2 separate regions of the Homo sapiens genome follow, and region 2 is linked to region 1. Evidence: fine-mapped expression QTL. Tissue or cell type: blood mononuclear cells. Region 1 holds a variant in brackets; the other region holds the start of a gene. All regions are shown on one strand. Distances are between the middles of the regions.

Region 1 (5,628 bases):
TTCATATTAAACCACAATGGTAGATATTAATTGTATTTTAGCCTGGCTCATCTGGCCAATCTGCCTGCAAGAAGGCAGCAAGGCAGCTCCTAGCTACAGTTTCAGCAGCTACACCTCACAGCCCTTACACCATTAAATGCTCCCCATTTGTTGTGCTTTTGTTGAGCACGTGACTAAACCTCCTGTTTCCTAAAAATGGCTTAAGATATATTTTGCCGGTAGATACAAAATCAGAAAAACTGCACAAACCAGTTAGATTGGTAGAGGTGGTTTATGTGCCCCATAGCCAAGAGAGGTGTGCACCAAGGAGGATATCATCAAATCTGACAATCTGGAAAGCCTTTGAAACTGTTCTTTTCCTAAGCACAGTATTCAGCTGTGTCCTCTTGAACCCATATCTATCAGGTCAACAGCTTTAGCCCATTCCACATGATATTGGCTGTGGGTTTGTCATATATAGCTCTTATTATTTTGAGAAACGTTCTATCAATACCTAGTTTATTGAGAGTTTTTAGCATGAAGGGCTTTTGAATTTTGTCGACGGCCTTTTCTGCATCTATTGAGATAATCAAGCGGTTTTTGTCATTGGTTCTGTTTCTGTGATGGATTATGTTTATTGATTTGCATATGTTGAAACAGCCTTGCATCCCAGGGATGAAGCCCACTTGATCGTGGTGGAGAAGCTTTTTGATGTGCTACTGGATTCGGTTTGCCAGTATTTTATTGAGGATTTTTGCATCGATGTTCATCAGGGATATTGGTATAAAATTCTCTTTTTTTTTTTTTTTTTGAGACGGAGTCTCGCTCTGTCGCCCAGGCCGGACTGCGGACTGCAGTGGCGCAATCTCGGCTCACTGCAAGCTCTGCTTCCCGGGTTCACGCCATTCTCCTGCCTCAGCCTCCCGAGTAGCTGGGACTACAGGCGCCCGCCACCGCGCCCGGCTAATTTTTTTGTATTTTTAGTAGAGACGGGGTTTCACCTTGTTAGCCAGGATGGTCTCGATCTCCTGACCTCATGATCCACCCGCCTCGGCCTCCCAAAGTGCTGGGATTACAGGCGTGAGCCACCGCGCCCGGCCTCTCTTTTTTTTGTTGTGTCTCTGCCAGGCTTTGGTATCAGGATGATGCTGGCCTCATAAAATGAATTAGGGAGGATTCCCTCTTTTCTATTGCTAGGAATAGTTTCAGAAAGAATGGTACCAGCTCCTCTGTACCTCTGGTAGAATTTGGCTGTGAATCTGTCTGGTCCTGGACTGTTTTTGGTTGGTGGGCTATTAACTACTGCCTCAATTTCAGAGCCTGTTATTGGTCTAATCAGAGATTCAACTTCTTCCTGGTTTAGTCTTGGGAGGCTGTATGTGTCCAGGAATTTATCCATTTCTTCTAGATTTTCTAGTTTATTTGTGTAGAGGTGTTTATAGTATTCTCTGATGGTAGTTTGTATTTCTGTGGGATTGGTGGTGACATCCCCTTTATCACTTTTTATACCATCGATTTGATTCTTCTCTCTTTTCTTCTTTATTAGTCTTGCTAACAGTCTATCAATTTTGTTGATCTTTTCAAAAAACGAGCTCCTGGATTCGTTGATTTTTTTGAAGTTTTTGTGTCTCTATCTCTTTCAGTTCTGCTCTGATCTTAGTTATTTCTTGCCTTCTGCTAGCTTTTGAATTTGTTTGCTCTTGCTTCTCTAGTTCTTTTAATTATGATGTTAGGGTGTTGATTTTGATCTTTCCTGCTTTCTCTTGTGGGTATTTAGTGCTATAAATTTCCCTATATACCGTGCTTTAAGTGTGTTCCAGAGATTCTGGCACGTTGTGTCTTTGCTCTCATTGTTTTCAAAGAACGTCTTTATTTCTGCCTTCATTTCGTTATTTACCCAGTAGTCATTCAGGAGCAGATTGTTCAGTTTCCATGCAGTTGTGCAGTTTTGAGTGAGTTTCTTAATCCTGAGTTCTAATTTGATTGCACTGTGGTCTGAGACACAGTTTGTTGTGATTTCTGTTCCTTTACATGTGCTAAGGAGTGCTTTACTTCCAACTATGTGGTCAATTTTGGAATAAGTGTGATGTGGTGCTGAGAAGAATGTATACTCTCTTCATTTGGGGTGGAGAGGTCTGTAGATGTCTATTAAGTCTGCTTGGTGCAGATCTGAGTTCAAGTCCTGGATATCCTTGTTAACCTTCTGTCTCATTGATCTGTCTAATATTGACAGTGGGGTGTTAAAGTCTCCCATTATTATTGTGTGGGAGTCTAAGTTTCTTTGTAGGTCTCTAAGGACTTGTTTTATGAATCTGGGTGTTCCTGTATTGGGTGCATATATATTTAGGATAGTTAGCTCTTCTTGTTGAATTGATCCCTTTACCATTATGTAATGGCCTTCTTTGTCCCGTTTGATCTTTGTTGGTTTAAAGTCTGTTTAATCAGAGACTAGGATTGCAACCCCTGCTTTTTTCTGCTTTCCATTTGCTTGGTAGATCTTCCTCCATCCCTTTATTTTGAGCCTATGTGTGTCTCTGCACGTGAGATGGGTCTCCTGAATACAGGACACGGATGGGTCTTGACTCTTTATCCAATTTGCCAGTCTGTGTCTTTTAATTGGGGCATTTAGCCCATTTACATTTAAGGTTAATATTGTTATGTGTGAATTTGATCCTGTCATTATGATGTTAGCTGGTTATTTTGCTTGTTAGTTCATGCAGTTTCTTCATAGCATCGATGGTCTTTACAATTTGGCATATTTTTGCAGTGGCTGGTACCGGTTTTTCCTTTCCATGTTTAGTGCTTCCTTCAGGAGCTCTTTTAGGGCAGGCCTGGTGGTGACAAAATCTCTCAGCATTTGCTTGTCTGGAAAGGATTTTATTCTTCACTTATGAAGCTTAGTTTGGCTGGATATGAAATTCTGGGTTGAAAATTCTTTTCTTTAAGAATGTTGAATATTGGCCCCCACTCTCTTCGGGCTTGTAGGGTTTCTGCCGAGAGATCCGCTGTTAGTCTGATGGGCTTCCCTTTGTGCGTAACCCGACCTTTCTCTCTGGCTG[C/T]GCTTAACATTTTTTCCTTCATTTCAACCTTGGTGAATCTGCCAATTATGTGTCTTGGGTTTGCTCTTCTTGAGGAGTATCTTTGTGGCATTCTCTGTATATCCTGAATTTGAATGTTGGCCTGCTTTGCTAAGTTGGGGAAGTTCTCCTTGATAATATCCTGAGGAGTGTTTTCCAACTTGGTTCCATTCTCCCTGTCATTTTCAGGTACACCAATCAAACGTAGATTTGGTCTTTCACATAGTCCCATATTTCTTGGAGGCTTTGTTCGTTCCCTTTTACTCTTTTTTCTCTAATCTTCTTGAGTTATTTCATTAATTTGATCTTCAATCACTGATATCCTTTCTTGATCGAATCGGCTATTGAAGCTTGTGCATGTGTCACAAAGTTCTCGTGCCATGGTTTTCAGCTCCATCAGGTCATTTAAGGTCTTCTCTACACTGTTTATTCTAGTTAGCCATTCGTCTAATCTATTTTCAAGGTTTTTAGCTTCCTTGCGATGGGTTAGAACATCCTCCTTTAGCTGGGAGAAGTTTATTATTACTGACCTTCTGAAGTCCACTTCTGTCAGCTCGTCAAAGTCATTCTCCACCCAGCTTTGTTCCATTGCTGGCAAGGAGTTGTGATCCTTTGGAGGAGAAGAGGTGCTCTGGTTTTTAGAATTTTCAGCTTTTCTGCTCTGGTTTCTCCCCATCTTTGTGGTTTTATCTACCTTTGGTCTTTGATGTTGGTAACTTACAGATGGGGTTTTGGTGTGGATGTCCTTTTTGTTGATGTTGATGCTATTTCTTTCTGTTTGTTAGTTTTCCTTCTACCAGTGAGGTCCCTCAGCTGCAGGTCTGTTGGAGTTTGCTGGAGGTCTACTCCAGACCTGTTTGCCTGGGTATCACCATCAGAGGCTGCAGAACAGCAAATATTGCAGAACAGCAAATATTGCTGAGTGATCCTTCCTCTGGAAGCTTCATCCCAGAGGGGCACCTGCCTGTATGAGGTGTCAGTCGGCTACTGGGAGGTGTCTCCCAGTTAGGCTACATGGGGGTCAGGGACCCACTTGAGGAGGCAGTCTGTCTGTTCTCCAAGCTAAAACACCATCCTGGGAGAACCACTGCTCTCTTCAGAGCTGTCAGACAGGGATGTTTAAGTCTGCAGAAGTTTCTGCTGCTTTTTGTTCAGCTATGCCCTGCCCCAGAGGTGGAGACTACAGAGGCAGTCAGCCTTGCTGAGCTGTGGTGGGCTCCACCCAGTTCGAGCTTCCACAGCCACTTTATTTACCTACTCAAGCCTCAGCAATGGCGGATGCCCCTCCCCATGCCAGGTTGCTGCCTTGCAGGTCAATCTCAGACTGTTGCACTAGCAGTGAGCAAGGCTCCATGGACATAGGATCTGTCGAGCCAGGCACAGGATATAATCTCCTGGTGTGCCATTTGCTAAGACTTTGGAAAAGCGCAGTATTTGGGCAGGAGTGTCCCGTTTTTCCAGGTACCATCTGTCACGGCTTCCCTTGGCTAGGAAAAGGAAATCCCCTGACTCCTTGCGCTTCCCAGGTGAGGCGATGCCCTGCCCTGCTTCGGCTCACCCTCCGTGGGCTGCACCCACTGTCCAACCAGTCCTAGTAAGATGAACCAGGTACCTCAGTTGGAAATGCAGAAATCATCCGTCTTCTGCGTCGATCACACTGGGAGCTGCAGACCAGAGCTGTTCCTATTTGGCCATCTTGGAACGGAATCCTCAATGAGATATTTTAAGAAGTTAAAAAATATTTGTAAAGAGCATCTGAAAAAAGAAATATGTAATATGTTTAAGAAATTTTTGAAAAAGATCATTGATAAGGGGAAATGTTCTCTTACATATATAAAAACACACAATGACTACACTACTCTGGGTTTCCTGGAAAACACACAAACACACACACACACACACAGACACACACACAAAAGATAAATCAATCAACGAAATAGAAGAGGTATCACAGAAACAGACCCAAGTGTTGAAAAATTGTAACATATGATAAAGATGAATTATAAATTATCAAGAAAATGATACATTGTTGAAGACTGGTGCTGGGACAATCGACAAGCTGAAGAACTGGTAAAAATGGAAAAACTGGGGGAATAAATAGTATCCCACCATAAACCACATACCAAATTAATTCCTGATCAACTAAAGAGCCAAATGTAATAAATGTAAATAAAATAGAGCCAAGAGTAAATAAATCAAAAGCTAGAAGAAAATATAGGTGACATTTAATTTTAAGATGAATAGGAAATTGAAGATAAATAGATTTTACTATAAACTTTTAAAGAATTCTGTACAACAGAAAATCTTAAAATTAACTCAAGTTGGAAAAGTATTAACAAAAACATACTGGACAAAATTACCATCCTTTGTACATATGCATCAATTTTTGTAATGCCCACTAATACTCCAGTTAAAGCAAATAGGGCTAAGTACATAGCCTTTGGAGACAAGTGTTCCAGGACCTGATGCTGGGTGTGTCACTTCTCTATCAGCTGTGTGACTTTGAGCAAGTTACAGTCTTCCCTAAAACTCAGCTTCTTCATCTGTAAAGAGGGATGATAACAATTCCATT
Region 2 (5,000 bases), 210 kb after region 1:
TTTGTGCTCCTATGAGAATCTAATGCCCCCACTGATCTGAGGCCCAGCTCGGGTGGTAATGTTCACTCACCTGCTGCTCACCTCCTACTGTGCCACCAGGTTCCTAACAGGCCAGGTATGCATACTGGTCAGTGACCCAGGGGTTGGGGACTGAGCTGCAACATGGATGAACCTTGAGGACATTATAAGTGAAATGAGCCAGTCACAAAAAGATAAATACTGTATGATTCCACTTATATGAGGTACTTAGTAAAAAATTATAGAGACAGTAAGTAGAATGTTGGTTGTCAGGGTTTGGAGGATGTGGGGAGGAAAGGGTTATTGTTTAATGGGTAGTTTGTTTTGCAAAGTGAAAAGATTTGTAGAGGTTGAAAGGTGGTGACGGTTGTACGTGAGTATACTTAACACCACTGAAATGTACACTTGGTTAAGATAGTAAATTCTTTTTGAGACGGAGTCTCGCTCTGTTGCCCAGGCTGGAGTGCAGTGGTGCGGTCTCGGCTCACTGCAAGCTCCGCCTCCCGGGTTCATGCCATACTCCTGCCTCAGCCTCCTGAGTAGCTGGGACCATCGGCGCCTGCCACCATGCCCGGCTAATTTTTTGTGTTTTCAGTAGAGACGGGGTTTCACCGTGTTAGCCAGGATGGTCTTCATTTCCTGACCTCGTGATCCACCCGTCTCGGCCTCCCAAAGTGCTGGGATTACAGGCGTGAGCCACCGCGCCTGGCCAAGACAGTAAATTTTATGTGTATTTTACAATTTTTAAAATAAAAAAAGGTCTTTCGTCTTTTCCCATTGTTTTATTACATTTGCTTTGCCAAGTAAGACATTCCTATATAATTTTAATGTTTTGTTCCATTAGTTATTTTAACTATTTTGTAATAACTGACACTTTCCGGTTTTTTTTAACCTGGTACAGCAAGAGACTATTTCTCACTGGTCTTCCCCACTTGCATCCTTTGGCACATACATTTATGTATTAGGTTCTGTAAATTATTTGCTTGGGATTGTATGACTGGAGAAACATTTCCTACATTTTTCCAAGGCAGGCAGAGGCAAATTATACCACTACAGTAATTCCAAATTTGTGTTTCATTTAAATGTCCTCCACTATTGTTTCAGTAATTTTTATGTATGTTTCTCTAGGCCCTTAAATGTGATATCCCTCCATTAAGTTTGTTTCCAAGAAAGCAATATTCTCAGTTACTTCTGAGACAGGTAACTTCTCTTTCCCTTATTTTTAAAGATATCTATTGCTGGGAGCACTGATCGGAATGGATTACCTCTACATTCTTCATATTTGCAGACTGCTTTTAGTTTTAGTTCCCAGACTTTTGGTCTTAAAGACGCCTTTACACTAAAAAATTACGGGGGACCTCAAAGAGCGTGTACGTGAGTTATAATTATCAACATTTACTCAATTAGAAATTAAAATTGGTATTTCTAAGCGCAAGAATACACATGCGCACATTCCATTAACCGCCACTGCAATGGCGTCATCACATGTTATGTGATCACTGGAAATTACTACACGAACGTTAGAGAGAGAATGAGAATGAAAAGGAAAATAGTTTTGACACGAACTGACCCCGCTTCCTGGGTCTCCAATCCACCCCACCACTACCCCCATTCCAGGAGTCCCAGGATCAAGCTTTGGGAAGCGCCATCCGTCACAGGTCTTGGTCTCCCCTTCCAAAAGTCAGTGCCTCTCCAGGCTGCCCATCCCCAGCAAAGATCCGGAAGTCCGCTGCCCCTGGCAACAGCACCCAGCACCTAGCCCTCTGCTTCGCCGTACCGCACCCGGAAGTCGGAGCTGCGCACGCACCGCGGGACTCTGATTTCCCGGCGTGCCCCAGGAGAGCGGCGTGGACGCGTGCGGGCCTAGAGGCCCACGTGATCCGCAGGGCGGCCGAGGCAGGAAGCTGTGAGTGCGCGGTTGCGGGGTCGCATTGTGGCTACGGCTTTGCGTCCCCGGCGGGCAGCCCCAGGCTGGTCCCCGCCTCCGCTCTCCCCACCGGCGGGGAAAGCAGCTGGTGTGGGAGGAAAGGCTCCATCCCCCGCCCCCTCTCTCCCGCTGTTGGCTGGCAGGATCTTTTGGCAGTCCTGTGGCCTCGCTCCCCGCCCGGATCCTCCTGACCCTGAGATTCGCGGGTCTCACGTCCCGTGCACGCCTTGCTTCGGCCTCAGTTAAGCCTTTGTGGGCTCCAGGTCCCTGGTGAGATTAGAAACGTTTGCAAACATGTCCCGGATCGAAAAGATGAGCATTCTGGGCGTGCGGAGTTTTGGAATAGAGGACAAAGATAAGCAAATTATCACTTTCTTCAGCCCCCTTACAATTTTGGTTGGACCCAATGGGGCGGGAAAGACGGTAAGTCTTCAGTAGCCGCCTTCAGTTTACAGGTCGCTACATCTTTCGGAGAATAAAATGGGAAGTTGAGAACTCTCCTTAGGAGCAGAAGCGTCCCTAGGGCTCCACAGGTGTAGGCCCTTAAAGTGCCTTAGGGTGTGGCCTGCAGGCTACAGCGACCTTAGGAGTTTGCCTGAAGCAGTCTCGGAAGGATGTCCGGACCTGGCCTGGGGACAAGGTTTACTTAAGAATCCCACGATACCGGGAGCTGTCGCCGCTCACTCAGAGTTCAGTTCCCACTGGATGCCCTTTGGTCTGTATTGATGTTTTTAACGCTGTCTCCTTGCTTTCAAAGCATAGCATTCACTTCCCAGTAGTTGTCCCATACAAGAATTCCTTTAAAAGTTATAAAATGATACATACATGACTAAAGAGTTTCCAAGTATGCCAACTGTCCAGACATAATACATGGAAAATAAATAAATTCAAAATGTAACTGATGTAGTGGGGCTTAACTTGGAAAACTTCTCTTCTTAAAACTCAGTCAAAAATTTAACGTTGGTGCACGACTGACTTTTTTTTTTTTTTAAAGCCGTGGGAATATTTATAAATTTGAATGGAAAGAATAACCAAGAGGCATTCTGGTCAGGAATAGTGGCTTAAGAAAAAGCAAGACGATGTCAGTATAGCAGGGAGAAGAGTCTAAAGGAAGGATTTGTGAAGAGTGTAGAAAGAGAGAAGGTTGAGAATTGAATGCCAAACTTGTTTACTTTTGTTTTTGTAAAAATGTTATTTGTTGAATGCTTGTTATGTACTTAGGATTGTACTAAATACTAGCAGAAGGGAGAGTAGTACTGTATAGTGTTTATGAGGACTGGCTGCCTCAATACAGCTTTTTCGCTTCATTTATTAGTTGTCTGATTGTTTGCGAGTGACCTCACTGCTCTGTGCCTTAGTTTTCTCATTTATAAAATGGAGATTAAAAATAGTTTCTACAGCTGGGCACGGTGGCTCACGCCTGTAATCCCAGCACTTTGGGAGGCCGAGGCGGGTGGATCACCTGAGGTCAGGAGTTCGAGACCAGCCTGGCCAACGTGGCGAAACCCCATCTCTAATAAAAATACAAAAATTAGCCAGGCGTGGTGGCGCATGCCTGTAATCCTAGCTACTGGGGAGGCCGAGGCGGGAGAATCGCTTGAACCGGGGAGGTGGAGGTTGCAGTGAGCCGAGATCACGCCATTGCACTACACCAGCCTGGGTGACAGAGGGAGACTCTCTCCCCCCACAAAAAAAAAAAAAAAAAAAAAAAAGTTTCTACAGGCTGGGCATGGTGGCTGACGACTGTAATCCGAGCCGTTTGGGAGGCTGAGGCTGGGGGATTGCTTGAGCCCAGGAGGTCGAGAGGTCGAGGCTGCAGTAAGCCATGATCATGCAGCTGCACTGCAGCCTGGGCAGCAGAATGAGACCCTGTCTCTTAAACAAAAAGTTCCTACAGCCTGGAGTTAATGTGAGAATTAAATAAATGTATGTAAGAGTGCTTAGTACAATACAGTACTTAACTGTTAGCCATTCTTATTATTAACTTAAATTAGTTTAAAGGGTTTCAGTTGAAAATAATTATTTTTTTCCCAAGTAACAATTCTTCATATTAGGATAACTTCTTAGTTATATAGCATTTCTGTGAACTTACAGCATTAACACTTAATCATATTTTTATTACAGGTTTTATAATGTCAGATTTTATCTTTTATAGTTTCCATGATAAATAATATTTTTGTAATGAATTCATATTTTATGGTAAACTTCTGTGGTTCTCTTATAACGAAATAATGTAATTTTCTATTTCTTTAGACCATCATTGAATGTCTAAAATATATTTGTACTGGAGATTTCCCTCCTGGAACCAAAGGAAATACATTTGTACACGATCCCAAGGTAATGGTGCTAGTACAATTTTGTATTTTTATAATTATAAAAATGATAATAGCTTATTATAGAAAACTTGGCACTGGAAAACTATAAAGAGAAATGAAAGTCAGCCCCACACAGTTTTAGCACCCAGTAGTAACCGTTGTTGACATTTTCATGTGTTTTCCTCCTCCTTTAAATACTGTTTTATATAGCTGATGTCATACTCTTAATTTTGTATTCTGGGTTTTTTTCCCCACTTAACATTATCATGAAGTCCTATGTCATTAAAAAACTATCATCTGGGTGTTTGGTATGTAAGTGTTTCTTTTAATCTTTATACTGCTTTGTATGTCTGAGATATTTTCTACTTAAAGTGCATGAACACTTTAGTAGTTATGTAATTTTCTTACATTAGATTGCTTTCAGTTTTTCATTAAAATGTACCATGATAAGCCAGGCTTGGGGGTGTGTGCCAATACTCCCAGATAGCTCTAGAGGCTGAGATGGGAGGATTGCTTCAGCCCAGGAGTTCAAGGCTAGCCTGGACAATATAGTGAGACCCACTGTCTAGAAAAAAAAGTATCATGATAAAAATCTTTGTGTATGAATCATTGTTTGAATTATGGTGTTTATACTATTCGTATGTGTAAAGGACATAGAATTTGGTCTATAGGTTTGTTTTTGCACATATAGAAGTGAAACAACAATACACACACACACACACACACACACACATATATAT

What was found. PIP is the estimated chance that this variant, and not a neighbour inherited with it, causes the effect.
Region 2: RAD50 starts here. The variant in region 1 is fine-mapped to the expression of RAD50 in blood mononuclear cells (TOPMed, PIP above 0.99). The same link has a PIP of 0.9 or more in whole blood.

What each region holds. Positions count from the first base shown.
Region 1 is chr5:132,345,147-132,350,774 of GRCh38, forward strand. MIR3936HG (MIR3936 host gene) reads right to left here. Exons shown (of 8, transcript NR_110997.1): 5 at 4,669-4,811. Among named protein-coding and RNA genes, the nearest start is that of MIR3936, 18 kb to the right of the region's middle. RefSeq lists a silencer at 690-862. The variant C/T (reference allele first, on the strand shown) is at 3,039.
Region 2 is chr5:132,555,086-132,560,085 of GRCh38, forward strand. It overlaps RAD50 (RAD50 double strand break repair protein), which reads left to right and starts at 1,892. Exons shown (of 25, transcript NM_005732.4): 1 at 1,892-2,368; 2 at 4,199-4,282. The coding sequence starts at 2,240. It also overlaps a transcript of IL5 not described here. RefSeq lists an enhancer at 1,515-2,175.